3 separate regions of the Homo sapiens genome follow, and all the other regions are linked to region 2. Evidence: fine-mapped expression QTL. A gene starts in region 2. Each other region holds a variant in brackets. All regions are shown on one strand. Distances are between the middles of the regions.

What was found. PIP is the estimated chance that this variant, and not a neighbour inherited with it, causes the effect.
Region 1: its variant is fine-mapped to the expression of SMOC2 in esophagus muscle (GTEx, PIP above 0.99).
Region 3: its variant is fine-mapped to the expression of SMOC2 in skeletal muscle (GTEx, PIP above 0.99).

Annotation. Positions count from the first base shown.
Region 1 is chr6:168,613,231-168,624,089 of GRCh38, forward strand. All of the region lies in intron 9 of SMOC2 (SPARC related modular calcium binding 2), which reads left to right. Among named protein-coding and RNA genes, the nearest start is that of SMOC2, 180 kb to the left of the region's middle. RefSeq lists an enhancer at 9,468-9,637. The variant A/G (reference allele first, on the strand shown) is at 5,627.
Region 2 is chr6:168,434,947-168,445,805 of GRCh38, forward strand. It overlaps SMOC2 (SPARC related modular calcium binding 2), which reads left to right and starts at 6,238. Exons shown (of 13, transcript NM_001166412.2): 1 at 6,238-6,508. The coding sequence starts at 6,425.
Region 3 is chr6:167,975,944-167,986,802 of GRCh38, forward strand. HGC6.3 (a long non-coding RNA gene) reads right to left here and starts at 3,850. Exons shown (of 3, transcript NR_171011.1): 1 at 3,602-3,850; 2 at 2,137-2,427; 3 at 1-872. RefSeq lists enhancers at 1-61, 1,901-2,477, 2,478-3,054, 3,632-4,207 and a silencer at 6,072-6,272. The variant C/A (reference allele first, on the strand shown) is at 6,008.

The DNA of each region.
Region 1 (10,859 bases), 180 kb after region 2:
CAGGAAGGTGCAGGGGAAGTCTGACGTATCCTGTGAGCCATTCCTTCCTCCACCAGCTCAGGTGAAAACAGCACTGTCTTTCTGTGGGTGTCCTGATGTTGGTGGTTCAGCAGTGGCACCAGTGTGAGGACAGAGGGGGCGGCATGAGGAGCCCCTTGGGGAGCCTGGGCATGGCCCCTCTGTTACTGCCCTGTACCCCAAGCCAGGGTCCTCTCCTGGATCCCCAGAGCTCTTCCGCCTGGCACACAGTCTAAGAAATGGTCTTTATTTTGGTCAAACAGCCTCTCACCCAAGTGTTTCTGGAAGCTCTATGGACCCAGCAGACTTCATGAATGGTCAAGGCCTCTCCCTAAAGGGCATGGCACAGTGCCTCTTCACATCTACAGCCAGCACAGGGGGCCTCTTCACACCTACAGCCAGCACATGGAGCCTCTTCACACCTACAGCCAGCACAGGGCCTCTTCACACCTACAGCCAGCACAGGGCCTCTTCACACCTACAGCCAGCACAGGGGGCCTCTTCACACCTACAGCCAGCACAGGGCCTCTTCACACCTACAGCCAGCACAGGGCCTCTTCTCCTAGAGCCAGCACAGGACCTCTTCACACCTACAGCCAGCACAGGGGGCCTCTTCACACCTACAGCCAGCACAGGACCTCTTCACACCTACAGCCAGCACAGGGGGCCTCTTCACACCTACAGCCAGCACAGGGCCTCTTCACACCTACAGCCAGCACAGGGGGCCTCTTCACACCTACAGCCAGCACAGGGCCTCTTCACACCTACAGCCAGCACAGGGGGCCTCTTCACACCTACAGCCAGCAGGGGGCCTCTTCACACCTACAGCCAGCACAGGGCCTCTTCATACCTACAGCCAGCACATGGAGCCTCTTCACACCTACAGCCAGCACAGGGGGCCTCTTCACACCTACAGCCAGCACAGGGGGCCTCTTCACACCTACAGCCAGCACAGAGCCTCTTCACACCTACAGCCAGCACATGGAGCCTCTTCACACCTACAGCCAGCACAGGGCCTCTTTATACCTACAGCCAGCACAGGGCCTCTTCACACCTACAGCCAGCACAGGGCCTCTTCATACCTACAGCCAGCACAGGACCTCTTCATACCTACAGCCAGCACAGGGCCTCTTCATACCTACAGCCAGCACAGGGCCTCTTTATACCTACAGCCAGCACAGGGCCTCTTCACACCTACAGCCAGCACATGGAGCCTCTTCACACCTACAGCCAGCACAGGGCCTCTTCACACCTACAGCCAGCACAGGGCCTCTTCACACCTACAGCCAGCACAGGGCCTCTTCATACCTACAGCCAGCACAGGGGGCCTCTTCACACCTACAGCCAGCACAGGGGGCCTCTTCACACCTACAGCCAGCACAGGGCCTCTTCACACCTACAGCCAGCACAGGGCCTCTTCACACCTACAGCCAGCACAGGGCCTCTTCACACCTACAGCCAGCACATGGAGCCTCTTCACACCTACAGCCAGCACAGGGCCTCTTCACACCTACAGCCAGCACAGGGCCTCTTCACACCTACAGCCAGCACAGGGCCTCTTCATACCTACAGCCAGCACAGGGCCTCTTCACACCTACAGCCAGCACAGGGCCTCTTCACACCTACAGCCAGCACAGGGGACCTCTTCACACCTACAGCCAGCACAGGGGGCCTCTTCACACCTACAGCCAGCACAGTACCTCTTCACACCTACAGCCAGCACAGGGCCTCTTCACACCTACAGCCAGCACAGGGCCTCTTCATACCTACAGCCAGCACAGGGCCTCTTCACATCTACAGCCAGCACAGGGCCTCTTCATACTTACAGCCGGCACAGGGCCTCTTCACACCTACAGCCAGCACAGGGGGCCTCTTTACATCTACAGCCAGCACAGGGGGCCTCTTCACACCTACAGCCAGCACAGGGCCTCTTCACACCTACAGCCAGCACAGGGCCTCTTTATACCTACAGCCAGCACGGGGCCTCTTCACACCTACAGCCAGCACGGGGCCTTTTCACACCTACAGCCAGCATGGGGCCTCTTCACACCTACAGCCAGCACGGGGCCTCTTCACACCTACAGCCAGCACAGGGCCTCTTCACACCTACAGCCAGCACAGGGGGCCTCTTCACACCTACAGCCAGCACAGGGCCTCTTCACACCTACAGCCAGCACAGGGGGCCTCTTCACACCTACAGCCAGCACAGGGCCTCTTCACACCTACAGCCAGCACACGGCCTCTTCACACCTACAGCCAGCACAGGGTCTCTTCATCTTCATACTTACAGCCGGCACAGGGCCTCTTTACATCTACAGCCAGCACAGGGCCTCTTCATACCTACAGCCAGCACAGGGGGCCTCTTCACACCTACAGCCAGCACAGGGCCTCTTCATACCTACAGCCAGCACAGGGGGCCTCTTCACACCTACAGCCAGCACAGGGCCTCTTCACACCTACAGCCAGCACAGGGGGCCTCTTCATACCTACAGCCAGCACAGGGTCTCTTCACATCTACAGCCAGGAGCATCTTTTTTCTTGGGGCCCCAAGCAATTGCTGGCATAATTATCGTCTTTGACTCATGTAGAAACCTTAGAGGCAACACCTGGATTTTTCAGACACGATTTTAGCACTATTCTAATTTTTTGAAGATTAGTTATGGTTTTCTGAGAGAGCATAAAATGAACCTTACCTTGCCCTAAGTGGAGCTTAGGACATTTTCCAAAAGGTAGTTAGATCAGGAGCAACACATTCCTGCCAGGTATCATGTGACATGTAAGGACCTCGGTGTTTACCTTTTCTACAAAGCAGACAGGAGCCGGCCAGGACCTCGCTTGGTGGCCTTTGAGAGCCTCACAAAGGTGACACGAGGTGTCAATATTCTGCCCACTAAAAATGTCTACTTCTGTGATCCCTGCTGTCATATCAAAGACTGAATTTACAGACACGAGTCTTCTAAATTTTAGCTGAGCTGGGAACAAAGCTTCAGGCTTTAGAAACATACTACTGTAATTCTGGGGATGTGAGTAGTTAGGTGAGCTATCTGCACTCTGTGTCCATACAGGCTCACGCCAGAACCAGCTGCTCAGGGCACAGGCTCAGACTCTCCATGACCCATGAGGCTGGGACAAGGACTGGGTGTTGAGGAGGCTGGGATGCGAGGCTGTCTGTGAGAGAGGATTTTTAACCTGGCATTCTGCTTTTGAGAGCTGTCTGGTGGCATGATACCTAAAGAACATCAACTCAGCCTCATGGGTAGGGCTGGGGAGTCCCAGATATGGCAAGAGACCGTTCCACATGGCACCACTTGGAAGAGAGAGCTGAATCTACATTATTTTATTTTTTGACCACTAAGTTGGATGTCTAAATATGAAATTTGCCCATGAATAAGATTAGTAACACTTTTGAAGGAAATTGCAGTTTTTAGGAAGCGTAACAGTGAAATGGACCATTAAATCAGTTTTATTGAGAAAAGACTGCTGCAAATAAAAACTCAGAAAAACCACACATATAATTGCCATCCCAGAGGCATCATAAGACAGGAAGAGCAGGGACAAGGGGTGCCGAGGAGTCAAGCGGTTGGGAAAAGGTGGTTTTCAAGAACCGGTGTCTGTGGAGCATCCCGAGATGCCGCTGCACTGCGGGGGGGTTGCAGGGAGCTCCTCCAGCAGCTGAGGGAGCCCACGCAGGTGCAGGGACACAGGTGAAGTGAGCGTTTCACTCAGCGCTTGCCTTTTCTCCTGGGAAAGAAAGTGGACAGGATGCACCCTGCAGAGGGCACCGGAGAGATGAGAACTAAGAAGGAGCGATATGGCTACTCTTGCAGCAAGGCCAGCAGAATTCTCAGTGGGATTTTATTACAATATTTCTTTTGGCTGATATTTTGTCTTCATGTTTGAGAGTAAGGAGACATTGGAGGTTTGGGGGAATGTGGGAATTCATCATTCTCAAAAAAACAAGAACAGGAATAGAGAAATTAAATAAACAAAGGCGTTTTATTTTCCTCAACATGTAGAGGAAAGACTAACAAATGTCTAATTATGTACAGGAGGGTGCTGGGCGCTTTTTCTGTTTATTAATTGATACTTCAACAGCTGAGTGTGAATAACTGAGCAGGGTGGCTGTTTCTCACCGACGTGGCTGAGCAGGAGCTTTTCTCACACCCAAGGACGGGTCTCCCAGGGGCCCAGGGCACTGCATTCGTGGACTCTGAAGACGGGGCAGGAAGCTGGAGCTATAGTTTCTCCCATGACCTTTCAAGCAAAAGTTTAGGACTCTGATGGGCCAGGGGCACTCCACTCTTGTCCCGCACTCACATCCGCTTGGACAAGTCCTGTCTCTGCTCCAAGCTCTCTTGCATCTCGCTGGCTGCCCCACTGCTTCCTCCAGGCGAGTTTCCAAATAGACTGTAAGTAGATTCTGATCCCCATCCATGCAGCAAGAAGAGGTGTCTGGAAACCCCAGATCTGGCCTGTATTGCTTCCCATCATCAGGGTCTCCTGGCTCCAGATTAAATGTGAACTGCTTGTTGTGACCGATGGGGCCCCTCCTGGCCTTACCCCAGTGCATTTTCTGTTTTCTTCTCTCCGCCATGCATGGGACTGTATCTCGCCTGATTGCATGGCCTACTTGGAGAGGCGGGGGTCGCGTCCAGCGCCTCGCTGAGGGGCCATGCCTCCAGCACACAGGACACAGGTCATTTCCCTGAGAGGCATGCTGACATGGATTGCCAGGTTTATGGGGTCTGCCAGGGATAAAATAATCTGAGATTTTTAACCCACCCATTTATTTCCCATCCAAGAAAACGGATCTGTCCTATGGCGTGTTATTAGCCGCAAGGCTGCCTGCATGGGAGTGGCCTGGACCATCGCCCCAGGGCCCAGTGCTCCAACAGGACCCTCGGTTTATTGCTGTGCTATCACCACGATGAAATAATTAATTTTTAAACGCGAGGCCTCCGTGCTCCATTTTGCACTGAGCCCTACAAACAAGCCGATCATGATTAGTAACAACACACAGCTTGCAATTCACTGGGCATCCAATGGCAAAGAGCCAGCGTAGTGGCATTAAGAGGCGAGTCAAGGAGAGGCAGGTAGTGGCATTAAGAGGAGAGTGGAGGAGAGGCAGGTAGTGGCATTAAGAGGAGAGTGGAGGAAAGGCGGGTAGTGGCATTAGGAGAGTGGAGGAGAGGCGGGTAGTGGCATTAGGAGAGTGGAGGAGAGGCGGGTAGTGGCATTAGGAGAGTGGAGGAGAGGCGGGTAGTGGCATTAAAAGGAGAGTCGAGGAGAGGTGGGTAGTGGCATTAAAACGAGGGTCGAGAGGTGGGTAGTGGCATTAAGAGGAGAGTTGAGGAGAGGCAGGTAGTGGCATTAAGAGGCGAGTCAAGGAGAGGTGGTAAAAGAGTTAAGACAAGGCCAGGGAATGACGATGGAAGGGCTAGGAATGTCCCGCATGGGGTGAGCACAGATGCAGACAGGAAGACGGTGCGCTCAGGACATCAGTAGCCCAGCTTAGGCGATGGGGAAGGTGACATCGTCTCCTGCAGGGACTATGGGCTCTCGACGCAGCAGGCACACGGGCATCCGGTCTGGGAGAGACAGCGATGGC[A/G]GGAAAGCTGGAGTGCCCTTCAGTCACTACTCCACAGACTCCACTAAACTGGGAACCAATTTCTGAAATTATGGGCTGCATTTTATTTGTTTATTCAATATAATAAGACAATAAATATCTTAATCTTAAAATACCCAGGAATTTGCTAGAATATCAGAGAACCAAGTGTTAGATGACCTATGACCTGACACAAAATGACCCTCAGCACGGATCGGAGAACTTGAGTTCTGAGCAGCGCCGGTGACCGCAACAGCACATTGTTGAGTTATTTTAGAAGCAATGTGGCTTGTTTTTGTTTATGGTTTCCTTTAGAGCCAGATTTTTAAAGATAAAGTGCCATTTAAAAAATTCCCAAAGACAGCAGGGAGCATTCTGAACGACAACAGGACAGTCAGCTCTGGCCAGTTTAGCCTGCGTTACTTTGAAAGTTATGATTATGCAGAAGAGAGATGGAATAAAGTTTAGATTTACGTTCATCATGAAAAAGGCATCTGCCAGACAAATTAATAGTGTAAGCAATATTTCAGAGACAATTTAAATAACTTGAGAACAAACTGGTCTCCAACACTATCAAATATATTAAATTAATTTCTAAACAATTGTTATTCTATTGCAAATAATTCCTAACTCTATTAAAGCAGTTTATCCTAAATGATTAACTACTTTAAAAGCCTTCCAAGTACGGTATACACTTAAAAATAACAAGTATGCTTTTAACTGGCCTACAGTGGTTAGTTTAGACTTCCCTCCTATCTTTTCTGAATTGATTGAGGCTCTACCATAATCAAATTAAAACCTCCTATAACGCAAGTCTCACTTACTTCCCGTTTGCCGCTGACTCAGGCAGGAAACCACCGTGGTACTCCTGAAAGCGCCCTTCTTTCTCAGAGGCTGTGCACTTCAGGTGAGACCACAGTGAGGCCAGTCCGGACAGAGGGGACTCTGCCTGGAGTCGGAAGGTCTCCACAGCCAGCTGTCCCTTGTGTAGCCAGTGCCTGCCATGGTTAGAAAGCCCACAGCTTCAGTTTACACGCTCTGTGTCTTGTGGCCCTTTTACTCTACGTACCAGTCATGGTCACTGTGCTCCGGCAGGCCGTTGTCCAGCTCGCTCTCAAGGTTCCGGACACACGGGCTCTGTGCTCCCTGAGGTTGGCAGTCACTGCCTTCAGGTCTTCAGATCCCCTGCACCAGGTTGCTCAGGCATGAAACACACAGCCCTACCTGCGTGTAATATTTGCCTGTGGTCTCTCCCCTCCACCAAACCAAGCAATTCAGATGCCTTGAGCGTTCTTTAGCTATCGGTATTTCATCTCTTCACTGAATCATGTTTATTGTTTTCACTTGGAAGCGCTTATCTTCCTGATTCCCCTATGTCTTTAAACCCAACGCTGGCAGAATACTAAGACTGCATGGTGCCTTCTCTGCTTTACCTTCTCATGAGAATTACAAATCCCTTTGTTTTCTAATTTTGCAAGCAAGTATTTATTACATGCCTGTTGCATAGGTGGTGCTTGCCAATGTTCTGGGAGATGCAAGTCAATAGAGATCCAGCTCCCGTACTCTGGAGCTGAGACCTGGCTGTGAGGATTGCAGGTTTATGACCCTGGGATGAATGCTCTTGAACAAGAAAGCCACCTTATTTCAGTTTGAAATATTGGGAAAATGGAGACTGATATATAGGAAAATTTTCCCTATGTCTAAAAATATTATGGTAGAATTCTTGTAAACTCTTTTCCAGACTTGTACCAATGTCAAGAACATTTCACCCTCACCCTAGATAGCACCCTTTGAGTCAGGGAACCGCAGACAGCATGGGCAGCACTGACACTGTGCGGAGAGAGGAGTGAACGTGAGAAATCACTTCTGCAGGAGAAATTAATTCCAAGGGGGATCAAGACAGGGAAAATCCAATTATCCAGGTTGGATATTGGCCAGAGCACTGCGGTTATTACTTCTAGAATAAAGGCAAGACTAATAGAAATGGCCCAGCTGATAGGAGCAATTGAGTTATGTTCTTCCTGATAATTCCTTAAGAATTTAATTGGACAGACTAAGGCTGCAGTGCCCAGATGCATCAGCCGCGTGTCAAACTCCTTGGACACCCTGGATGACCAACCAAGGTCGAAAACTTCTCAAAACCTGGCTTGTGATGAATAACCACAGGCTATGGAAACCCCTAGGATGTTTTCTCAGACAGCATGATTTACTTTTTTTCTTAGTTCTCTTCTAACTTGTCAAATTAAGGACAATCTTTCAGAAACGTCAGAGGTTTCCCTCTGACAGAGAAGGATAAATGGACTGCCCATTAGTTGTTAATTCGCTTTGAGAAATTCCTGAGATAAATTGTTCAAGTGTAAATTTCAGCAGACACACTTTAGTGTTTTGAGTTTCTGTCCTATTTATGCATCTTTTCTCTACGCTTTTCCTGATGTAATCAACTTACTTGAAATGTATAATCCCCTTATTTCCAGAGGAGAATAGTATTAGTCCCAGTGTCAGATTTCTGATTTTAAAAACGTCTCCTAAGGAACACACATTATCTGCCATGAAGTGCTACTTTTTGGAGCAGTCTTTGATATGCTCTTTAAAAATGTATTTGAAGTCCATGTTTTATTTACAATTTTGCTCTGTTAAGTAGTAACCCGCTTGTACTAGTTTGTTTTCATGCTGCTATGAAGAAATACCCAAGATGGGGTAATTTATAAAGTTAAGAGGCTTAACTGATTCACAGTTCCACATGGCTGGGGAGGCCTCAGGAAACTTACAATCATGGCAGAAGGGAAAGCAAACATGTCCTTCTTCACATGGCAGCAGGAGAGAGAAGGGGAAGTGCCAGATGTTTATAAAACCATCAGATCTCACGATCTCACGCGGACTCACTCGCTATCTGGAGAACAGCATGGGGAAAACCACCCCCATGGTCCAGTCACCTCCACCTGGTCCTACCTTTGACATGTGTAGATTATGGGATTACAATTCAAGGTGAGATCTGGGCGGGGACACAGAGCCAAACCATATCACCACTCATTGCGTTACACAGGGGTAAAATTGTTTATTCAAAGGCAGCAGAATAGCATTGTTGTCTTTGGAATTTCTCTAATGGATTAATCTTCTTTTTTTTTTTCTTGAGATGGAGTCTCGCTCTGTGGCCCAGGCTGGAGAGCAGTGGCATGATCTCGGCTCACTGCAAGCTCCGCCTCCCGGGTTCACGCCATTCTTCTGCCTCAGCCTCCTGAGTAGCTGGGACTACAGGCGCCTGCCACCACGCCTGGCTAATTTTTTTGTATTTTTAGTAGAGACGGGGTTTCACCGTGTTAGCCAGGATGGTCTCGATCTCCTGACCTCCTGATCCACCCGCCTCGGCCTCCCAAAGTGCTGGGATTACAGGTGTGAGCCACTGCGGCCAGCCTCTAGTGGATAAATCTTTTTGAAGCAAAGAATGGAACAAAATGAATCTTCTTCCACCATGTGGCTGCACAGGAGTATCAGAGCCTGTTCTGGCTTGGGAGGCTGCCGGATTCATGAATTGTTCATTGTTCAATTAAACTCCTTTACATTAAAAAAAAAAAGACAAGGATAGTCCTGTGCCTCTCCTGGTGCCTGGCAAGTCTCCCCTTTGTTCTCGCCATGGCATGTTGTGTGTTGACATTACTCTTTATTGTTTAGAGCCCTGGCTTTTCTTGCACGTACCATTTCCTGACAGGCAGACCTAGAGTCCATGTGTGCTCGGTTTCTTCCTGACCACTTAACTAACTCAGCAGAGGTGAGACTGTTGCCGTGTCAAGAAAGTGACAAGAGCAGGGCTGCCTGTCTTGTCTTCCCACTGCTATTTCCAAGCCCTTTCCACCCTGAGATGCCATTTCTCTAATCCACACTTCCACAGAGAGCCTCCTTCACAGGGGGGAAGCTGAGGTACAAAATGCTTTACTGCAAAAGTAGATGCCTTTTGTGCCTGGTGCCTGGCATCCATAGAAGGGACAAGGTACAGGACGTGCAAGGCCACTCTCGGAGACCGACACCATGCCCACATTTCTCCAAGGAGAGGACAATCTGTAGAAAGCCGGATGTACTCGGGCTGAGTGTGGGATTGAACTTCCGAGCAGTCAGCCTTAGTGCACACTGGGAAGGGCATGCAGTGGTGTCTTTTCTGGAAGCCCCTCTGGGTAGGGGAGTTTCTGACTTCCGTAGCTTGTCCATCTGGACAGTGAGTTAGCTCTGCTGCTACATAAATTTAAGTAAGTGAGATGATCTGTTTAATTCTGTTCGTGCTCTATTGTCCAGGGTATCTCTATAGAAATGCTCTAAATATAGGAAGCCCAAGAAGATAGTAGAGATTGAGTCAGCAAACCAAGGTCAACATGCAATACTCTAAAAGGACAGAGCAGGCTGGAGGGCTGCGGGGATTCCAGTCAGGCCCACTAAGGCATTTGGACCATGTCCTGCAAGGGTTTTGGCTGAGACATGGATAATTAATTTTTTTTTTTTTTTTTTTGAGACAGAGTCTTGCTCTGTGACCCAGGCTGGAGTTCAGTGACATGATCTTTGCTCACTGCAACCTTCCCGGGTTCAAGCAATTCTCCCGCCTCAGCCTCCGAGTAACTAGGACTACACACCACCCCACCTGGCTTATTTATTTATTTATTTATTTATTTATTTATTAGTAGAAACAGGGTTTCACCATGTTGGCTAGGCTGGTCTTGAACTCCTGACCTCAAGTGATCCACCCACCTTGGCCTCCCAAAGTGCTGGGATTACAGGCGTGAGCCACCACACCTGGCCAATAATTATTTTTTTTATTTTTAATGAATCTGGGTGCAGTGGCTCATGCCTGTAATCCCAGCGACTCAGGAAGGTGAGATGCTGGGCGGAAGGATTGCTTGAGTCTGGGAGTTCCCATCTAGTCTGGACAACATAGAGACCCCCTATCCCCCCAAAAAAATCACTTCGACAGCCTCCGGGACAGTGATTCAGAGATGCACAAGACTGGGGCAGCCAGAGTGGCTGATGCGTGCTGAGGCCTGGGCTGTCGGTGCAGTGGCTGTGGGGATGGCAGAGGAAGGGAGGAGGGAGAGAGGCGCGCTCACCTGCTGGAGGTCACAGAGCCTGGCGGCTGGGTGGGGCATCGCCGCAGAGGAGGCTCCTGCAGCTCAGGGGCGCTCACCCGAGTGGCTGCACGGATGCACAGAAGCCCCTGACTTCCCACAGGGCCGTTCTTAGGACCAAATGGAGACAG
Region 2 (10,859 bases):
GTCTCACATGAAGAAAGGAGGGGAAGGACCCCTAGATTGACTTAACAAGGAGCAAAAATTCAAACAGTTTAGATTGTCTGAGTTTAGAATAAGATGCCTCCTGTAAATTTTACCAGATCTCCTTCTCTTTCCACGAACACATCCTGTGCCTTAATGAGCCTTGGCAGTGGTCAGCCTTTATTAGCTCTGCCACTGATAGATTCTGCAAGTTCCATATGCTAATGAAAGTTGTTTCCTGAGTGGAAAGGCTAACATGGCCCCTGGATATTATTACAAATAGACTTCAGTAAACTTGGGCTATGTATAACAGCAGTGGCAACGTGTTTCGACCTGAGGTAAGACTGGTTGTTTAGATAGACCATATCTCCAACACCAGAACTACATCCTTTCAGAATAGCACAAGCATCTCCCGTCAACTTTACGGGGACAGTTTTCACTGTAAATGTAGCAGTCTTGTGTTTGGCTTTGTGAAAAAGAGCTTTCTTTGGAAACATTATCTTGGGATTGAAGCATTACCAGTAAGTCAGAACCAGTTGTGAAGGGCTTTCTCCTTTGGTCTGGTGGTGGATCTTAAACACTATGCAGAAGGCTGAGTTAGTGAATGAGTGTGTGTTTCTGTACATGTGCACACACACATTTCTTAGTGAAATGGCCCATGGTTTTCATCATACCTCAAAAAGGTATATGGTTTCAAAAAGTTTAAGAACTGATTATCTTGACATCAGGCAGGAGATTCTGGACCCCAAACTTTTTCTCACTCTAGTTCACGATTCTTCAGTAGTTTCTGAGATGGAGAATATTGGAGGGTACAGATCCTGGACACCAAACTGAAAACTGCGTTGAATTCTGCTCCTACCGCTTCCTAGCTGTGTAAATCTGGGCAAGTTCTGTAATCTCCCAGGATCTTATTACTCATCTGTAAAATAACCATTTTGTAGAGTTTCCATGAAAGTTAGATAATGTGTATAAAACACCCATCACATTCCAACCATCTATTAAAAATTTCCATAAAGTGGAGACATCATATTACCTGACTTCCAACTATACTATAAGGCTACAGTAACCCAAAGAGTATGGTACTGTCACAAAAACAGATACACAGACCAAGGTACAAAACAGAGGGCCCAAAAATACAGCCACATACCTTCAACCATCTGATCTTCAACAAAGTCAACAAAAATAAGCAGTGGAGAAAGGATTCCCTGTTCAGTAAGTGGTGATGGAATAGCTGGCTAGCCATGTGTAGAGGATTAACACTCGACCCCTACCTTTCACCATATACAAAAATTATCTCAAGATGGATTAAATATTAAATGAAAGACCTCAAACTATAAAAATCCTAGGAGAAAATGTAGGAAACACCATTCTGGATATCAGTCTTGGCATAGAATGTGTTACTAAGTCCTCAAAAGCAATTGCAACAAAAAAATTGGCAAGTGGGACCTAATTAAACTAAAGAGCTTCTGCACGCAAAAGAAACGATCAGCAGAGTGGACAGACAACCCATAGAATGGGAGAAAATATTTGCAAACTATGCATGGGACAAAGGTCTAATATCCAGAGTCTGAAGGCACTGAAACAACGCAATAAGCAAAAGAACAACCCCAGTAAAAAGTGGGCAAAGGACATGAACAGACACTTCTCAAAAGAAGACATGCGAGAAGCCAACAAACATATTAAAAAATGCTCAGCATCATTGATCATCAGAGAAATGCAAATCAAAACCACAATGAGATACCATCTCCCACCAGTCAGAATGGCTATTATTAAAAAGTCAAAAAGCAACAGATCCTGCTGAGGCAGCAGAGAAAATGGAATGTTTATACACTGTAGGTGGGAATGTAAATTATTTCAGCCACTGTGGGAAGAAGTTTGGGGATTTCTCAAAGAACTAAAAATAGAACTCCCATTCGATCCAGCAATCCCATTACTGGGTATGTATCCAAAGGAAAATAAACCATCTACAAAAAAGACACAAGCCCTTGTATGTTAATTGCATCACCGGTCACAATTGCAAAGACATGGAATTAACCTAGGTGCCCATCAGTAGTGGACTGGACAAGGAAAATGTAGTACATAGACACCACGGAATACTATGTAGCCACAAAAGAACGGAAGCATGTCCTTTGCAGCAACATAGATGCAACTGGAGGCCATGATCCTAAGTGAATTAATGCAGGAACAGACATGCAAATACTGGATGTTCTCACTCATAAGCGGGAGCTAGACACTGGGTACACATTGAGATAAAGAAGAAATGAGACACTGGGTACACACAGAGATAAAGAAGGAACAGTAGACACCAGGGCCTGCTAGAAAGGTGGGGCAGGGAACAAGGGCTGATAAAACTGCTTATTGGGTGCTATGCTCACTCTCTGCGTCTTTCATACCCCAAACCTCAGAGTCACACAATATGTCCATGTCACAAACCTGCACGTGTGCCCCCGAGTCTAAAATAAAAGCTGAAATTATTTTTTAAAAATTTGCCACAAAGTGCCTGAAAAGTATTATCATAAAAATTGTCCTCAGGCATCTTAAGAAGGAAGAAGAGGCCGGGCGCGGTGGCTCACGCCTGTAATCTCAGCACTTTGGGAGGCCGAGGTGGGCGGATCACGAGGTCAGGAGATGGAGACCATCCTGGCTAACACAGTGAAACCCCGTCTCTACTAAAAATACAAAAAATTAGCTGGGCGTGGTGGTGGGCGCCTGTAGTCCCAGCTACTCGGGAGGCTGAGGCAGGAGAATGGTGTGAACCCGGGAGGGAGAGCTTGCAGTGAGCCGAGATTGCACCACTGCACTCCAGCCTGGGCAACAGAGCAAGACTCCATCTCAAAAAAAAAAAAAAAAAAGAAGAAACTTGTTTAATTATTTTGTTGAGCACAAAGTCCAAATTCTCTGTTACTTAAATATATCAAAATAGGAAGAAAGCCATTGAGTCAGGCCCAAGGATCAAACACACAACTCCACTGTCCACTTTTCAACGTGGTGTGTCAACGCTGGCCTCATCCTGCAGCCGCGGTGACGGTGAGCCTCGGCGGTGCTCTGTTCTGATTTTGTCAACTCTGCCGATGTGGTTTCCTTTCTATATGGCTCACAGGTTTGTGAAGCTGCAGAACTTGGGCTAAAAACCTGGGATTGATGTGGGGATCCTGCATCATTTTTCCGTAGGTTGAAGGGAACAAGTTAAAAGGAAGATGCAAGTCATCAGAATGAACAAGCCAACAAGAGGACAGAGACTCCAGAAACCTGGGGAACTACAGATTCTCGGGTCCAGCCTGGGGGTAGTCTAAAAGGAAAATCACACAGAACTTACCTAAGAAAGTCCAGGTGAACGGTGAAAACTCCTGCTCCCATGATTAAGTAGAAACTAGGAGAAAACATTAATAAGTGACTGGCAGGTGACTGATGATGTGGGGTGATTCTCAGAGTATGAACAGTGACCTGAGTTCAGTCCCAGATGATACTCAGAGTGATGGCAGAGGGGATTTCTGGAAGTCACTGCATCAACAAAGAGATATTTGACTAAACTTATGCTTGGCATATTGAGATGGGAAAATAGCTGACAAAAAGTTTTCTGGCTAAACATGAATTAGCCAGAAATAATAACTAAATTATATCATTTCTATAATGAAAATAAAATCCTTTTGCAGTTTTAGCATAGTAAAATAAATAAAAAGGAAGCCAATACTCATGATAAAGCATTTTGCTAATGGCCTAAGAGGGAAAGTTAGTTTAGAAATGTGAAAACAGCTGGAGTCTTTGGTAATTAGTTTCTCTTGCTGTTCTTTATTGTAACTTTCATCAGTGACAGGCATTTAAATTCTGAATGCATAAGCCACATTTTAGAATGGGCCCTGCATCACTTTTTAATTAAAAAAAAAAACAAAAAAACCTACATTTCCAAGAGAGGGGAACTTCTTCCTGCATCCTAGAGGAACTCTCTGGAAAGTATAGAGCTGATCACTTCCTGTCTTAACTTTGAACTGAGTGAATTACTTTTCTATCCTTTCTAACATGACAGCTCTCTGGCATTCCTGCCAGTAATAACTTTCTTGGAGACTTACAAATAAAAGACAGACATAACTCTTTCCCAGTGTTTTAAATAAATGTATTGTTTTTCTCCATAAAAATGGAACCTGATTATCTCTCCAAACTCCATTTCTAGAATTTTGAGAAACTAAAATTTGGCATTCAGGACACATGAGCTCCTCCAGATTTGAAAGGGGTTTCAAAGGCTCCAAACCTGCCTCATCTGTCAGAGTTTTGGACAAATGCATTTCATTTATCTTCCTAGAGTTCCCAGAGGATTCTGGAGTTGCTACATGAAAGACGTGTTGGGATTCTTGAATACAAGGCACGGAGGGCCAAGGATTTTCTTCTGTTCTCCATATTGCCAGAGGAAGTGACATGGATTTGCCAGTATTGCAGGTTTTAACATCTGCATTCTGTTTATGATTTTGTTGCTTAGGAGATCTGGCTAAGACATTTGGCCCCTTTGACTTTTGTTCCTCATCTGTAGAATGGGAATAATTAAGTCTGCTTCTTGTCTGCCATTCTTGCAGCGGACGATGGTGGATAAATGAACATGCTTTCAAACTTTTGAGTTCTGACGAGCAGTACTCTCAACAAAGTGGAAAGTGAAAAACAGGTTCTTTAGTAGCAAATACTTCTTAAAGGAAGTATGTCAGCTTCGAGTGTAAATTTTATTCTTTGGATAATCTTAGAATTAGTGGTATGTAGTGTTTATTTTCTTTTTACTTTAATTTTCACTGCAGTTCCCTAACAGTGATTCCTATTTACTTAATCATTTGCAGCTGCTCTGCTCACCTGTTTTTCTGGACCCAGGAGCAGTCCCTCAAGAGTTTTATTATAATTTCCTTCTAAGTCCTTAAACCAGGAGGAATGTGTTTAAGTGCTTAATAGATTCCCTGGGCTTTGGAATTTTAAGGAGAATTCTGAGAGTAGCCCTCCTTCAGGAAAAGGTGCATTTCTTTCCCGTCTTTCCGTGGCCCGACGGACATCACTTTCCTGATAAAATTGTGTGGGAAAGGTTGCAATAGCATTGCCTTTGCCTCAGCAGCCAGTCCCAGAACTTGCTGATACAGCCCCCTCCCCCAAAGTTCATAGCCAAAGCAGTGGGCTAGACATCGGATGAAACCTCAGATTTGGATTTTCTGTGTTTTGTGCTTTTCCCAATGCCCCTGACAAGTCAATTGATTCATTGTTCTTGAACAAATCTTCACTCTTCTGGCTTTCTGTGTGAGACAGAATTAGGGCTTTTTCCTGTAAAGTTATAAGCCAAGGCTAAACTATGTCAGCAATGTTGTCTGCAGTGGATATTATCCAGAGTCTGGGTGTGCAAAAATTTCCTGGTTTCCAACGTAGTCTTCGTGGGTGAGTTTACAACCTCCACAAGCCCTGTGCTCCCCGCACAAACACCTGAAATGCTTTGACAGAGCTGTTTAAAAACAGCCACATGTGTCTGTGAATGATGCCCAACCACATGCTCCCCCGACTTGAGAGGATCAAGGCTACAGCCCAGGTCAGACCCCGGATCTTTAGGACCTAAATTCCCCCATCCCTGCAGTGGATAACCCCGTGTAAAGATGCCAAAGGCGGGCTGCCCCCGGCGCAGCCTTTCCTGGACATGTGTTCCCAGCTGCCTTTGCTGGAGCGCCGCTGATCCTTCAGCACCTCTGAGAGGCAATGTTCTGGGCTGGACCAGGGGGCCTTAGAGGGCAGAGGTCAAGGAGAACCCCGGAGTCTGGGGACCGGCCAAGGCTTGGCGTTAACCTTTGTGGATGAAAAGTCCCGCTGGGCTGATCCTGCGCGGACCGGGCCTGGACCCTGGGGCGTGAGGAGGGCGCGGTGCGTCCCGTGGTTGTGCTTGGAAGCCCCCCGAGGGTGCGCGCGCGTGGGTATGAGTGCGTGCGTGTGCCTGGGTGTGCGTGTGTGTAAGTGTGCACGTGTGTGTGTGAGAGTGCGCGCGGGGAAGGAGGCACAGAGACAGCCCGGACAGGCCACTGCGCAGCCCTGGTGGCCCCCGCTCCACCTCTCGCTCCGCAGACCCGCGCCAGGGAGGCCTCTGGGCCGCAGCGGGCACCGGAGCGGAGCGGGCGCGGCAGCGGGCGCTGGGAGGTGGGGCTGGGGGAGGAGAGGGGGAGGGAGAGAGGCGGGCGGGAGGGGAGGATCCGGGAAGCTCCGGGGTATTTGACAGGAGCGAGGGCGGACGCAAAGAACGCGGAGGACCTCTGGGTGCCTGCAGGGGAGCTGCTCCAGCCGGGCCGCCGGGAGCGGTGGGGAGAGCATCGCGGAGCCGCCCCTCCACGCGCCCGCCCAGCCGCGCTCGCCCACTGGGCTCTCCCGGCTGCAGTGCCAGGGCGCAGGACGCGGCCGATCTCCCGCTCCCGCCACCTCCGCCACCATGCTGCTCCCCCAGCTCTGCTGGCTGCCGCTGCTCGCTGGGCTGCTCCCGCCGGTGCCCGCTCAGAAGTTCTCGGCGCTCACGGTAAGCCCGGGCCCGCGGGACCTGGAGCTCAAGTGGTGCCGCCTCTTGCAGCCGGCCGGGTTCGGGTCCCCGCGCCCCGCTCCAGGCCCAGGCGCCTGGGCACGGGGAGCAGGTGGCCCCGGGGGCCGTGGAGCCTTCGCCTGCCGGCGAGGCTGGAGCAGGTAGGACGCAGCGTGCGCGCCTGGGACCCGGCTGGGATGGGCTTCTGGGGACCCTGCCCGCCGGGGTCCTGCTGCGGCTGCGACGGGCTCCTCGGGTTCCACCCGGCTGGGACCCCACCTGCCTCGGGGGCTCTGACCCGGCTGTGAGAGGATCCTGGGGTCCTGCAGACCCCGGACAAGTGGGAGCTGCGGGTGCGCTCGGGTGTCCCGCACTCACTGCTGGGCCTGAGCCTGTGGGGAACCAGGTCTGGGAGCGCCGGCGCCGCCCCGCGGACTGTCCCAAGGCCAAGACAGACCCGCCGGGACTGGGCGCCCACCTCGCCCACGGGGACCCGGCCTGGAGCGTGTTCTCCCGACCGCTTTGGGCTCGTGCGCCGCGCGGATCCCGGGCCTCTCGCCGGCTGAAGGGGCTGCCAGTCGTGGGCCCCACTCGTGGGTCTGACTCTCCCAGAGACCCTCGTAAGTGAGCCGAGGAAGAAGCAGATGAGGTTACAGATGATTCTTCACGGGCCTGAGTGTTATTAGAGAAGCGCTTTCTTCCCTTCTCAGGACAGAACTGGAGGCAGGCGGCGGCTCCCCGCTCTGCGGGGCCTCTGGGTTCTTCCTCGTGGCAGGGATGCTGCGCTCCTGAGCGCGAGGGTCACCGCGGTTGACCGCTGTGTGTTTTTCTTTCTGAGCTGTAACTTCTATGCGACAGCCTTGGCCCGGCCAACGCACGCGGTGTCAAACGAGGAGCTATGTAGAGGGGGCTGAGCCAAGCCCCCGCCGGCCAAGCCAACCCGCGGCGGCCGCTGGGCCAAGGCCGGGTGTCTGCAGCCCCCAGCTCCAGCCGTCCTCCTGGGCTTGCAGGGTTTGCAAACCCATCATTAATGCAATCGCCAGAAACGAAAACATTCCACTTAAATGTGTTTTTGAACAAGTGTTTGAGAAAACACGAAGGTAGTGAGAACGCCTCTGGTGGACAGCCGTCTTTTTTAAGTGGCCGGGGACTTGTCCTAAAGGTGTTTATTGTATTGAAAATAAAGATGGTTGAAATAAGCTGTGGTCGGTTCTGCCTTTCAGCAAATTTAAAACAGTCATGTGGGCATCTTTTCTTTTTCTTTTTCTTTTTCTTCGTCTTCTTTCTTTTGCGTTTTAGCAGTGTGAAGGATGGTTTGTGAGTTCATTGCTCATACCTCAAATTCTTCTGCAGCAGCCCGGGGTCCCTGCCTTGTGTCTCACAAATGACTTGTAGATTAGAAACTGCTAACTGGGGCTCCAAGGAGGTTTTCACACACTCAGGCTTTCCCTGAAGATCCTTTATCTCCCCAGAGGGGGCCCTCAGAGGATACTCACTGGAGGCATTCATGTATATGCACATCTGTACATGCATCTAGACATAAATATACTCACGTATACACTCACAAAAAGACCCCCCACATACTCTTAAAGCACACTAGAGGAGACAGAGAAACTAAGGCCAATTCTCCAAAGGAGATCATAGCATTTTCTTCCAGGACTGTAGCAGCAGGTACCTACAGTTGCCACGGATTTTCAGATTTTCTGAAAGCGCAAAAAGTAGAGACTGCCATCTGCCTGCTGCCCTGTGTGTGTGGGGGGTGGGGTTGGGCCTGTTGGTCCCCCCTGGAAGAGCAGAATCAAGGTAGTTAGTAATTAGAACAGTTTAAGACTCGGCAGGTTTTCTTGTCTTCTCTCCCCTGTCTCATCTAACTATTTACTTGAACCCTCTCACCTTTTGCCCCCTTGAGGTTGCCCCAAGGATGTCTTGGGTTGCGGTGAGACCCGCTGCATGTGGGGTCTCTGTGCAGGAGCTGATACCCCACGTGGGCTTTGCCCTGTTGGCTGCATTCCCCAAGAACAGTTTGCCTGAAATTTACATTTGCAAATAAAATCAGTATCCCGAAGAAAAGATTAAAGCCATAACACATTTTGGCACACTTCTTCTCACCCCACCCCCAGTCTAGAAAATCAAGAAGTAGTTGAGTTACAAAGTAACTGAGGCAGGCCTGAAATCTGACTGGTCGCTGGGAGATGTGAGATGTGCAGGATTTTTCAGTGTGCTCATCTCTTTTCAAATTGCCTTCTGGTTTTTGGAAATCTCTTTTGTCTCCGGAGGCCCTCATTCAAAGAAGGGCCTTCTCTCCCTACGATTTGCATCCTACCTACTTTAATAAATCAAGAGGCAGTATCAGTCCATGCAGTGGGTGGGACCCACAGCTTAGGGTCTTGCTGGATGTGTGACTTCAGGCAAGTTACTTAATTTCATAATCTTCAGTCCCCTTATCTGTAAAATGAGAATACATAATCTCTTTCAAGCATGTGGTGAGGATTAAAGGTAGGGCTTTTAATGCGCCTACTATATGTGAGTTCTCCAGCTAACATTGTTTTGATGGTGCCCATGCCGTGGGTCCGTATAAGAGAGTGCTATCAATTGATACCGTAATTATCAATGCATATAGCGTTGTGGCATTAAGGTGTGTGTGGATTCAACTTTGCAGTATTTTCACCTGCCGCAGATTCTCAGAGCACACCACTTGGCTCTGGGTGTATCTGTGGACTTTGTGGGAGTAGCCATGTGGGACTCTATAGACCAAGGAGGAAAGCTTGCCTCTCTGCCTCCTTCTACTCCATTCATTTCTTCTCATCTAGAAGCAGGGAAATATGTCAGCCTCTCTGGGGCTTTCAGTTTGCCATACCTGGCTTCTCAGGACCACGCATTTGTCTTACTCACCTATGGTGAGTGTGCTTTCTTGGTGGGTCCAGCATTGCTGGTGTGCTCACCTCTGCTACTTTATGTTTAAGATTCAGAGAATCCACTTTGTCTGGTAATGATCTCTCTTCTTTCCACCAAAGTCATTCTTTAGAAATGGCACCATGAGGCCCTCTGTGTCTCTCATTGTGACTTTCTGATGGCTTTGCACAACTTCCTGGTTATTGCTCAGACCCTCTCACCTCCAGTCAACAATGGCATTCTTAAGTGTGTCCAATGCGCTCTTAATTTGGATGCAGGTCAATTTCTTCCTTGAAGAAGGAGGTACATTGAATGCCACACCGTGCCCATTTTCCTTTTTATTTCTGTGAATGACTGAGATGAGGGAATGATCTCTAGTATAAATGGTTTTTATTACACATAATTCTGTTTTCAAAGAGCAAACAGGCGTGATCACAATTACTCAACTTTATCATGGTTGTCATTATATGAATTTTGATGGACTGATCCATAAGCCCATACCTAGGTGATTTCTTTAAAGGCAGAGAGAAGAACAATATTGCCTGGGACCCCTTTCCCAGAAGTTTTTGGTTAGAGCCAAAGTATTCATTCCCATGTTGACTAAATCATATTTTGCTCACACTTAGAATGTTGAAGTCACATTACCATCCTTCTCAGACTTCTCTTACTGCCAATACCTAACGCTCCCCTAAGGTCATACGCACGACTTCGTTAAAGGTACCGTTGTCTCCACATTCAAGAGATGAGGAAACTGAAGTTTTGAGAGACTCTGAAGGGCACCTGGTCACTAAGCAGATCCGAATATTTCTCAAGTCATCCTGCCATTATTTTTCTTTCTTCGTGGGAGTTCCCTGCACTGTTTTTTGCACTGTCTTCAGGAACTTTACAATTCCACACTGCCGTTTCACCTCTCAGACTGTAGTTGACTTTCATCCTGAATCCTCATCTTCTCACAGAGGGTCTGGCACCTGGTAAATGCCTCTTATTGGTCTTGTGGAATGCATGACCACAGACCTGAAACAGTTATTTCCCACTCCTATTTGTGTTTATTTGCTTTGAAAGAGAAGAAAGGTGATAAGAAAACAATATTTAGCCATGTGTAATTTTTTTAAAGTTTCATTAGCAAGTTCATGAGATGATTTAATATTGATTTTGCTGAAACAGCCAAAATAAAAATGCTATTCCATTTCTGAGCAGTTGTGGTTTGGAATGCGTACCTCATCCTGTTTTGATATAGTTCTCACTCAGCCTTGGATCTTCAAGGGAATTACTGTGATTTTTTTTCCTTTCTTCTTCCATTGCAAATGCCTTGAGTCCATTTCATGCTCTGGGAGGGCTTCTACTGCATTCCCCAGTAGAAGACGGACCACGAAGGTGGTTAAGGAGGAGAGAACTAAACATAATCAAAATTTTCCAACTTAGAAGCCCATTTACATGGCGTCTAAAAACCCAAACATCT
Region 3 (10,859 bases), 460 kb before region 2:
TTGCCTAATATATCCCAACAGCATCATTTCAACATGCAATCTATACATAAAATGCATTCAGATTCTCTACATTCTTTTTCATGCAGCGCCTTCAAAATCCAGGCCGTCTCATACCCACAGCATTTCCCCGACTGCTGCGTGCTAGTGCTGGACCGTGAGTGACCAGAGAAACCACTGCATTAAAATATGGGGGTCACTCCCCCTGCAGTGTGTGTGTGGGGAGCAGGAGGCAGTGGGGGTCATTCCCCCTGCAGTGTTGGGGGAGGAGAAGGCAGTGGGGGTCATTCCCCCTGCAGTGTGTGGGGAAGGAGGAGGCAGTGGGGGTCATTACCCCTGCAGTGTGTTGGGAGGAGGAGGCAGTGGGGGTCATTCCCCCTGCAGTGTGTGGGGAGGAGAAGACAGTGGGGGTCATTCCCCCTGCAGTGTGGGGGGAGGAGAAGACAGTGGGGGTCATTCCCCCTGCAGTGTGGGGGGAGGAGAAGACAGTGGGGGTCATTCCCCCTGCAGTGTGTTGGGAGGAGGAGGCAGTGGGGGTCATTCCCCCTGCAGTGTGTTGGGAGGAGAAGACAGTGGGGGTCATTCCCCCTGCAGTGTGTTGGGAGGAGAAGACAGTGGGGGTCATTCCCCCTGCAGTGTGTTGGGAGGAGGAGGCAGTGGGGGTCATTCCCCCTGCAGTGTTGGGGGAGGAGAAGAAGGCAGTGGGGGTCATTCCCCCAGCACTGTGCGGGGAGGAGGAGGCAGGACTGTGCTCGCCCCTCCCCTTCCTGGTTCAGGTCCTGCTCCTGGGACTCAGCGCTGCGCCTCTGGGAAGGGCCGGTCCAGGAGCTCCGCAAGTTGCGGGAGAACCTGGCGGGTCCGTGGTCCAGCGAGGCCTGGGATTCAGAAGGGATGAAACGTTCCTCGACGCTTGAACACCGGCCTCCTGCCCCTGGGTCTTCCTGCTATTTCTTCCTGCCCCTCGCTCCCGCCTCGAGCCACCCCCTCGTGCTCCCCAACGCCCGCTCCTGTGCTGGTCACTGGGGGCAGTGAGAGGAGGCCAGAAGCAGAGGCGATGCCGGCGGGGAGCGGGCGGTGGGGGGGCTTCTGGGAGCGACGGACCCGGCAGCTGCAGAGCCCAGTGCGGCTGAGTGGGGGGAGGGAGGAGGGACCCCCCTCAGAGGCTCCACGCGGAGGCCTGGGAGAATCGGGTGGGCTGGAGGCTTTCACTGGATGGTAGCCAGCTTTGGACGCAAACGTCCCACGTGACCTGTCCCCTCTCGTCTAGGCTTCCAGGACCTAGGGGTGGTGGACCTGCTCTGTCCTCCCACCCCTGGACTTCCCTGGTGATCTCCTCTCCCCTCCCACCAGGGACCTCCTACCCCCTTCCCCCTCCCCCCTCCCACACCGGAGCCTTCTCTCCCCTCCCACCCGGGACCTCTTCTCCCCTCCCACCCGGGGCCTCCTCTCCCCTCCCACCCGGGACCTCTTCTCCCCCCCATCCGGGGCCTGCTGTCCCCTCCCACCCGGGACCTCTTCTCCCCTCCCATCCGGGGCCTCCTCTCCCCTCCCACCCGGGACCTCTTCTCCCCTCCCATCCGGGGCCTCCTCTCCCCTCCCACCCGGGACCTCTTCTCCCCTCCCATCCGGGGCCTCCTCTCCCCTCCCACCCGGGACCTCTTCTCCCCTCCCATCCGGGGCCTCCTCTCCCCTCCCACCCGGGACCTCTTCTCCCCTCCCATCCGGGGCCTCCTCTCCCCTCCCACCCGGGACCTCTTCTCCCCTCCCATCCGGGGCCTGCTGTCCCCTCCCACCCGGGACCTCTTCTCCCCTCCCATCCGGGGCCTCCTCTCCCCTCCCATCCGGAACCTCTTCTCCCCTCCCATCCGGGGCCTCCTCTCCCCTCCCACCCGGGACCTCTTCTCCCCTCCCATCCGGGGCCTCCTCTCCCCTCCCACCCGGGGCCTCCGCGGCTTTTAAAACTGTCTGCTGTGTGCTGTGCACGTGCTGGGAGCACAGTAGCGAAGCCGGGACAGATAAAGTTCTTCTAGTCACTGCCCTCTTGGAGTATACCGTTGAATCCGGGAAGTAGATCAATGAAATAAACACAGAATGGTTGTAAAATACAGAACGCTGGGAAGTGGAGGTGCGTGGTCTTACCCGTGTTTATAATTCAGCCGTCGCCTAACCTGAGAAATCAAGGATTTCTGCGTCGTGCGCGTGCCCGCTGAGCTGAGCTCTGCTGGGATGGGGAGTCCTTCTCCGGCTGGAGGCTGAGGGCAGGAGCTCTCGGTGAGAGGCTGCGGCCAGCGGTGCTGTGAGCCGGGCGGGGGTCAGCGCGGGCGGCCGGGGCGAGGCTGACAGCACAGCAGGGGCCGAGCTCCCCCGGGTCAGGCGGGACCAGGAAGGGATCATCCTTCTTTTGAGGGCACGGAGCCACCGTCGGAGGGCCTGTGAGAAGGGTGGGAAGCTGAGATTACATTCCTATTCTGAAAATGTCACACTGTGGAGGGCGGTGGTTCAAGCGCAGTAATGGCCATGGAGGGAGAACACCGCCCGGGGACACCCGGGGTGGCAGGGACCGGAGCCCCGGAAACCTGAGCAAAACGCGCAAAATGGGGAAAACCACCCAGGTTTTAATGGAAATTGTGCGAACAGCTGTCAACGAAGAGTCAAACTCTGTAAAATATTTGAAGAGATTTATTCGGAGCCAAATATGAGTGACCACAGCCTGTAACACGGCCCTCAGAAGGTCCTGAGAACGTGTGCCAAGGTGGCCGGGGCACAACTTGGTTTTATACAATTTAGAGAGGCAGGAGACATCAATCAAATACGTTTAAGAAATACATTGGTTCTGCCCAGAAAAGCGGGACAACTCAAAGGGCAGGGGGAGGGCTTCCAGGCTCTAGGTAAATGTAAACACTTTCTGGTTGACAATTGGTTGAGTTTCTCCGAAGACCTGGGATCAGTAGAAAGGAAATGTTCAGGTTAAGATAAAAGACTGTGGAGACCAAGGTTCTTTTGAAGCCTCATAGTGGCTGCCCTTGGAGACAATAGGTGACAAATGTTTCCTATTTAGATCTTTAAAAGGTGCTAGACTCTAGTTCATTTCTTCAGGATTGGGAGGGCCTGGAAGAAAGATCTAGCCATGTTAACAGAGATTCTTTACAGATGTACACGTCTCCCAACAACGGACAGCTCTGCAGGACCGTTTCAAAATATGGCAAAGAAACATGCTTTTGGGGTAAAATATTTTGACTTTCTTCCTTGTCTCGTAATGTTATGCACGAGTCAGGTTTGGAAAGCAAGTCACAATATATAGGGTTAAATAAAACCCATCTGATAAGAATTTATGATTTGTAGGGCATGACTCCCCAGACCCCTTAGATAGGAATTTGAGTAAGAGTTAAAAAAAAATCAGAGCATAGTCCTCACAGCAAAAATCAGATGACAAATATTTATTCAAGAAAGTCTGCTGAAACTCCCTAAGAATAATGATCATCTGTGGCTCCCTCCTTCCCCCACCCCAGCTCATCTTGACAGAAGCCCCACTCTTGGTGGTTGTGGCCAAGGAGACAGGGCTCGCTCTCCCCTCAGCTCCCACCCGAGGGTCCCCTTATCTCACCAGGAGGGACAGATGCCAGCATTTCTCACCCCAGCACCCAGTTGAAGAGGCTAAATTCCTGGTGAGCATGACGGACAGCCCCCTTCCTCCAGCCAGTCCCTACTCATCGGATGGGGCTCTAGCCCAAGAACAGCGGGCTAAGAAGGCTGGGATCCAGTTGCTGTGCCCAGCTCCACTGTAGGACGCAGTTCCGTAAAAAGAGGCAAACTGAAAAGACCAGAGAGCAGGGCAGTCCACAGGGAAGAAAAGGTTGCTCTGAAGCTCTTCCCAAAGGAACTGGCTTTATTGGAAACAGCGTGGAAACATTCAAGCCTGAAGGCATGCTCTGAAATGATTGTTCCTCTTAATTAGGAGCAATGAATTGGTCTGTGAGGGCTGCCAGAACAAAGCACCACAGACTGGGGGCTTAAACAACAGAAATTTCTCCCTCACAGTTCTGAGGCGGAAGCGTCTGAGCTCAAGGCGTTGGCAGGTTTGGTTGCCTCAGAGGCCTCTCTCCTTGGCCTGTGAATGGCCCCCTTCTCACTGTGTCCTCACGTGGTCTTTTTTCATTCCTTGTGTCTCTGTGTCCAGATTTCCTCCTCTTGTAAGGACACCAGTCACATTGGAATACGGCCCACCCCCATGGACTCATTTTAACTTAATCACCTCTTTAAAGGGCCTATCTTCAAATAGAATCATGTTCTAATACGCTGGGGGTTAGGACTTCAACATACGAATTCGAGGGTAGAGACACAATTCAGCACATCATCAACAAACTAATTCATAGCCCTGCTAGGTTGCTAGAGAGAACCAAGGTGACACTAAGAAGAGCCCTCGGCTGGGCGCGGTGGCTCACGTCTGTAATCCCAGCACTTTGGGAGGCCGAGGTGGGTGGATCATGAGGTCAAGAGATCGAGACCATCCTGGCCAATATGGTGAAACCCCGTCTCTACTAAAAATATAAAAATTAGTTGGGCGTGGTGGCACACACCTGTAGTCCCAGCTACTCGGGAGGCCGAGGCAGGAGAACCATTCGAACCCGGGAGGCAGAGGTTGCAGTGAGCTGAGATCGCGCCATTGCACTCCAGCCTGGTGACAGAGCAAGACTCAGTCTCAAAAAAAAAAAAAAAAAAAAAAGCCCTCCTGGAGCTAAAACAAACCTCAGAGACTGGCCTTAAAAAATGTTCACTGCTGCAGTTTAATTGGACCAGACATTGAAGAAATGTATGCCCAGGTCATTACTGAAAATCATAGAGCAATCAGTTAGTAATTAATGGAGCTTAACAGGTAGATATGATACCGCATGAGGTAGATAGCTTAACAGAGGGATCAAGGAAAGAGATAGCCAGTGTCCCCACCAAAACCACCACAACCCAGGCTGGCTGCGTGCATGCCCAAGGCTGAGTCCTCCAAGGAACTACCCCAGAGGCTTCACACTGCAGGGGAAATAAGCTTCACTGAAATAGTCTAGCCAAGTGACTCAACAAATAAGCAAAACAACAAAACCAAGCTACAGAGAGGGAAGAGAGGAATCAGCATGTAGTTTGTATACTGTTACCTAAAACATCCGATTTTCAACAAAAATGTAGACATGCAAAGACATTCAAAGAAACAGGAAAATGAGACATGAGGAAAACACAGGAAACAAAAGCTGCCTTGTGAGGGCCTAGATTTTTTTTTTAATTTGACTCTGACTAGCAGGAGGGCCTAGATGTTGAGTAGACAGAGACTTCAAAGCAGACATTACAGCCATGTTCAAAAAACTAAACAACACTGTGCTCATAGAAGTGAGGGAAACCATGACAATGTCTCATCAAATAAAAAAAAATACAGAGATTGAAATTATTTTTTAATGATAATCCTGGAGCTGAAAATAACTGAAATGCCAAAAAACATCTGGCAGGGCTCATGAGTAGATTTGAACTGAAAAGTCAGCAAACTTTAAGATAGGTTGGTAGAAATTATGTTATCTTAAAAACGGAGATAAAAATAGATTGAAAAAAAGGAATAGAACCTCAGAGAAATATGTGAACCCTTTAAGCCCCCCAGCATATGCATAATGAAAGCAAAAGGAGAGAAGAGAGATAAAGGGGCAGAAAAACATTCAGAGAAATAATTGCTGAAAACTTCCCAAATTTGCTTAAAAATGTGAATCTCTCAAAGAAGTTCAATGAATCCCAAAAGTAGGATAAATACAAAGAGATTCACACTCACACATGTCATAGTACAAATGTTTGAAGCCAACATGAAAATCTTGAAAGCAGAAAGTGGGAACGAGTTGCCGTGTACAAGAGAACCCAAAAGGACTGATGGCTGTCTTCTCCTCAGCAATGATGGAAGTCAGAGGGCAGTTGATACGGTTTGGCTGTTTCCCCACCCAAATCTCATCTTGGATTCCCACTGTTGCGGGAGGGACCTGGTGGG[C/A]GGTAATTGAATCATGGGAGCAGATATCTTTCCCATGCTGTTCTCGTGATAGTGAATGAGTCTCACGAGATCTGACGGTTTTAAAAGGAGGAGTTTCCCTGCACAAGCTCCTTCTGTCTCTCTCTGTCACCATGTGAGGTGTGACTTTCCCCTTCTGCCATGGTTGGAAGGCCTCCCCAGCCACGTGGAACTGTAAGTCCAGTAAACCTCTTTCTTTGGTAATTTGCCCAGTCTTGGGTTTGTCTATATTAGCAGCATGAAAATGGACTCATACGGCAGTGGAGTGAGATGTTCAAAGTGCTGAAAGAAAAAAAAGCTGTCAATCAAGAGTCTTATATCTGGCAAAACTGTCTTTCAAAAATTAAAGCAAAATAAAAGCATTCTTCAAAAAAAAATCAGAGAGAATTTCTTGTGAAAAGGAAATCCCTCAGGCTGAAAGCAAGTGAAACCACAAGGAAACTCAAATCCACAAAGAGCATCAGTAAAGGTAATTATATAATTATAAAAGACAGTAGACATGTATATTTCTTCATTTTCCTTCTCTTAACTGATTTAAAGAACAGTTGTATAAGACAGAGTGTGTATAATTGTACTGTTGGCCCTGTAACATGTAGAAATGTAATGTATTTGACAAAAATAACACAAAGGATGTGATGAAGGCAAAGTTTTACTGGAGTCAGGAAAGGACGCCAGTGACTCGAATCCACAGGACCAAATGAAGAGAAACAAACATGGTGAATAAAAAGAGAAATAGAACTTGCATATAAATAAATATGTATCCTCCTTCCTTTTCTCACCTCCTTTAATGAACATGAAATTATGTAAAGTCATAATTATAACAATGTATTATATTTATAACATATATACATATAATGTGTATAACTATAATAATATAAAAGGAGGGAAGAATACACCTAACAACAGGGCTCCTGAACTAGTGAGACAAAAACCAACAGAATGGAAGAGAAATAGGCAATTCAAAAACAAGGATGGCAGACTTCAATACTCTACCTGCAATTATGGGTAGACCAACTAGATAGAAAATCAGCAAGTAAGCAGAAGACTCAAAGAATGCGATAAACTGAACAGACCTAACAGACACCTGTAGAACACGCTACCTAACAACAGAATTGAAAATTCTTCTCAAGTGCGCATTGAACACGCTCCAGGATAAACATGCTAAGTCATAGAACAAGCCTGAATCATATATGATTTATATCCTTTAAATGTATTCAGGCTTGTTCTGTGACCTAGCATGTTTATCCTGGAGCGTATTCAGAATAGAGTTAAACTCACTAAACAAATTCGGCAAGGTTGAAGAATATAAGATCAATATACAAAAAGCAAATGTATTTCTATACTGTAGAAATGAACAACTGAAAATGAAATTAAGAAAACAATTCCAGCCAGGCATGGTGGCTCATGCCTGTAATCCTAGCATTCTGGGAGGCTGAGACAGGAGGGTTGCTTGAGGCCAAGAGTTCAAGACCACTCTGGCCAGCATATCAAGACCCTGTTTCTATTAAAAAAAAAAAAAAAAAAAAGGCTGGGCACCGTGGCTCATGCCTGTAATCCCAGCACTTTGGGAGGCCAAGGCGGGTGGATCACCTGAGGTCAGGAGTTCGAGACCAGCCTGGCCAACATGGCAAAACCCCATCTCTAATAAAAATACAAAAAATTAGCTGGGCGTGGTGGCGGGTGCCTGTAATCCCAGCTACTTGGGAGGCTGAGGCAGGAGAATCACTTGAACCTGGGAGGTGGAGGTTGCAGTGAGCCAAGATTAGGCCATTGCACTCCAACCCAGGCAACAGAGTGAGACTCTGTCCAAAAAAAAAAAAAAAAGAAAAAGAAAGAAAGAGAAAACAATTTCACTTACAATAGCATCAAAAATATCAAAACATTTCAGGATACCTTTAACCAAAGAAGTACAAGGTATAAGACTTAACAAGACTTTTACACTGAAAATGATGTTCACCATTATTAGCCACCAGGGAAAGACAAATAAAACTGCAGTGTGACACCACTGCTTGTCACAAAGAGGACTATAATAAAAAAGAGAGAAAATAACAGGTGTTTGAGAGTAGGTGGAGCAATCAGGATCCTCATGCAATTGTGTGGGAAAGTAAAACTAATGCTGCTGTTACCGGATGGGACATCTTGACTGTGAGTTGTCCAGGTTCTTGGTGCGTTGAACAAAGAACTGAACAAAATTGAACAAAGAATTGAACAAAATGTACAAACAAAGCAACAAAAGAAAGAAGCAACAAAAGAAAAAAGCAACAAAAGAAAACAGCAACAAAAGCACAGATGTATAGAAAGTGCAGATTTACTGAAGCGAAAGTGCACCCCACAGAGTGGGAGCGGGCTCAAGCAAGCGGCTCAAGATCCCCAGTTGCAATGTTCTTTAGGGCTTTTCTTAAGCGAAAAGAATTTGGTAACACCCCTGGGTGCCCTTTAGAGGCCTGTGACCAATCAGAGGCTGAAGCAGAGATGTGGCCCGTGGTCAGTCCGAGGCTGACGTGCAACTTGTCTGTCTTGTTATCACTGGAGGGAGGCTGTGGCCTGTGTGCTGCCCAGTCCTGCCTGGAAGTAGCTGCACCTGCTGTTCTTCTGCTTATGCCTTCACCCTTGGTTACCCGAATTCCCTATCCTCCTGCCTCACAGCTGCTTTGGAAGACAGTCTAGCAGTTCCTCAAAATGCTAGGTATATGCACCCGAGAGAACTGAAAACACTTCTCCACAAAGCTTGTACGTGAACGTCCTGGCAGCATGACTCTTAATAACCAAAGAGAAAACCTCAACGTCCGCCAGCTGATGAATGAATAAACAAAATGTTGTACATCCATACAATGAAATACTATTTGGCAATAAAAAGGAATGAAATTCTGATATTGCTACACATGGCTGAGCCCTGAAAACATGCAGAGTGGAAGCCAGACACGAAGGACCACGTGTTGTGTGATTCTATTTACATTAAATGTCCAGAATCGGCAAATAGAGACAGAAAATAGATCAGTGGTTTCCTGGCACTGGGGTAGGAAGTAGTTAGGAGTAATGTCTAAGGGTTTCTTCTGAGGAAGATGAACATATTCTGAACCTTTCTGGTGAGTCGCACTTGAAGGACACTAAAGCTTGCTGAACTGTGCACTTGAGATGAGTAAATTGTCTGGCGTGTGATTTGTACCTCAGTCAGGATATGGAAATGTTTTCAATTAATTCCAGAAAGAAGAAGCTGGCAGAGAGTGGTGGTGTCCGCTCCTGCAGTTGTCCATGAAGAGAGGGTGCCCTTTTGGAATTAAGTGGATTGGAGAGGAAATATTCCAGAGATTTCTTTTTAAGAGCTTAAATGGACTGCATATAGCAATGGGTAGCGTAGATCAGGGGTCCCCAGCCTCCATGCCATGGACTGGTACTGGTCCATGTCCTGTTAGGAACAGGGTGCACAGCAGGAGGTGAGCAGGGGCCAGTGAGCTTTCCCTCCTGAGCTCCGCCTCCTACCAGATCAGCAGCGACATTAGAGTCTCAGAGGAGCGTGGACCCTCTTGTGAACCGCACATGCGGCCATCTAGGTTGCGTGCTCCCTATGAGAATCTAATGCCTGATGACCTGAGGTGGAAGAGTTTCATCCCAAAACCACCCTACCCCCAGCCTGTGGACAAACTGTCTTCCACGAAACCAGCCCCTGATGGGAAAAAGGTTGGGGACCTCTGGTGTAGATGACTCCCAAGGCCTCAGGTCACGTCACCAGTCCCAAAGAGTTTGGAGTTACAAGTAAGATTGTCCTAAACTCATCACAGCTGGTTGTGGGCGTGTCAGCAGGCATGGGGGAGGAGGAGTCCCCGGCAGAGGACTGAACCCCCAGTAGGAGGGGCTGCACCTGAACCCCCTTCCTAAGAAACTGGTGGTTGTCTTTGCAGGAAATTCTCTGGTCGCTGGCTCTCTCCGTGTTCACTGTTGATAGGGTGATATGTCACTGCCCTACGTCAGACCCTCCAGTGCCCTCCCGTCTACGTGGGATCAAACCCGGGCTTGCACCTGGCTTGCACACACCCTGGCTGTTTCCCGGCCTCCTTCCCACCCCAGCCTCCCTCACCCACTCGCCGACCTCGCAGGCCTCTGCCCCGTCCTCAACACGCCACGCTCGTTCCCACCTCGGGGACTTCACACCGGCTGCTTCTGTGCCCCAGTGTTTCTGTGGTAGCCCTTAGCCCTCCCAGCCGGCCTCTCTGAGTCCCCTTCTGACAAGGAGTGGGAGGGTCCAAGCCCCCAGGTTCGGCTGCCACTGCTGGTCAGGGGCCACACTGGAGGCTGGAGAGGTGGTGGATGTGAGCGTGGACGGTGGGAGGGAAGCAGGGCCTGTCGGGGGTGGAGATGGCCTTTCCTCCCTGTCCTGCGGCGGCGGCGTCATCCGAGCCCAGCATCGGTCAGTTCCCATACAGTCAGGCATCGCTTAATGGCGGGGTTGTGTTCTGAGAAATGTGTCCTTGGACGACTTTGTCATTGTGGGAACATCGCGGGGTGCGTTTCCACGAACTGGGAAGGTCCCGCCTGCTGCTATCGGGTGCGGCCATTGCAGCCAGGCCACAGACCTGGGCAGCGCGGGACTGTGCCGCACACTGCGGGTGGCTGTAACACAACAGTGAGGAATTGTGCATCACGACACAGAAAAGCCACAGTAAAAATAAGGCACTACCATCTCAAGGGGCCCCTGTGAGGTACGAGGCCTGTCATTGACTAAAGCACAGCCGTGCAGCCCAGGACGGCAGTTCCTTGCCGAGGGCCCGTGTGTTTGTGTCTGGTGTGCGCTGTGTTCCGAGGATGAAAGTGATGGCCGATGAACAGAACTCTCGTG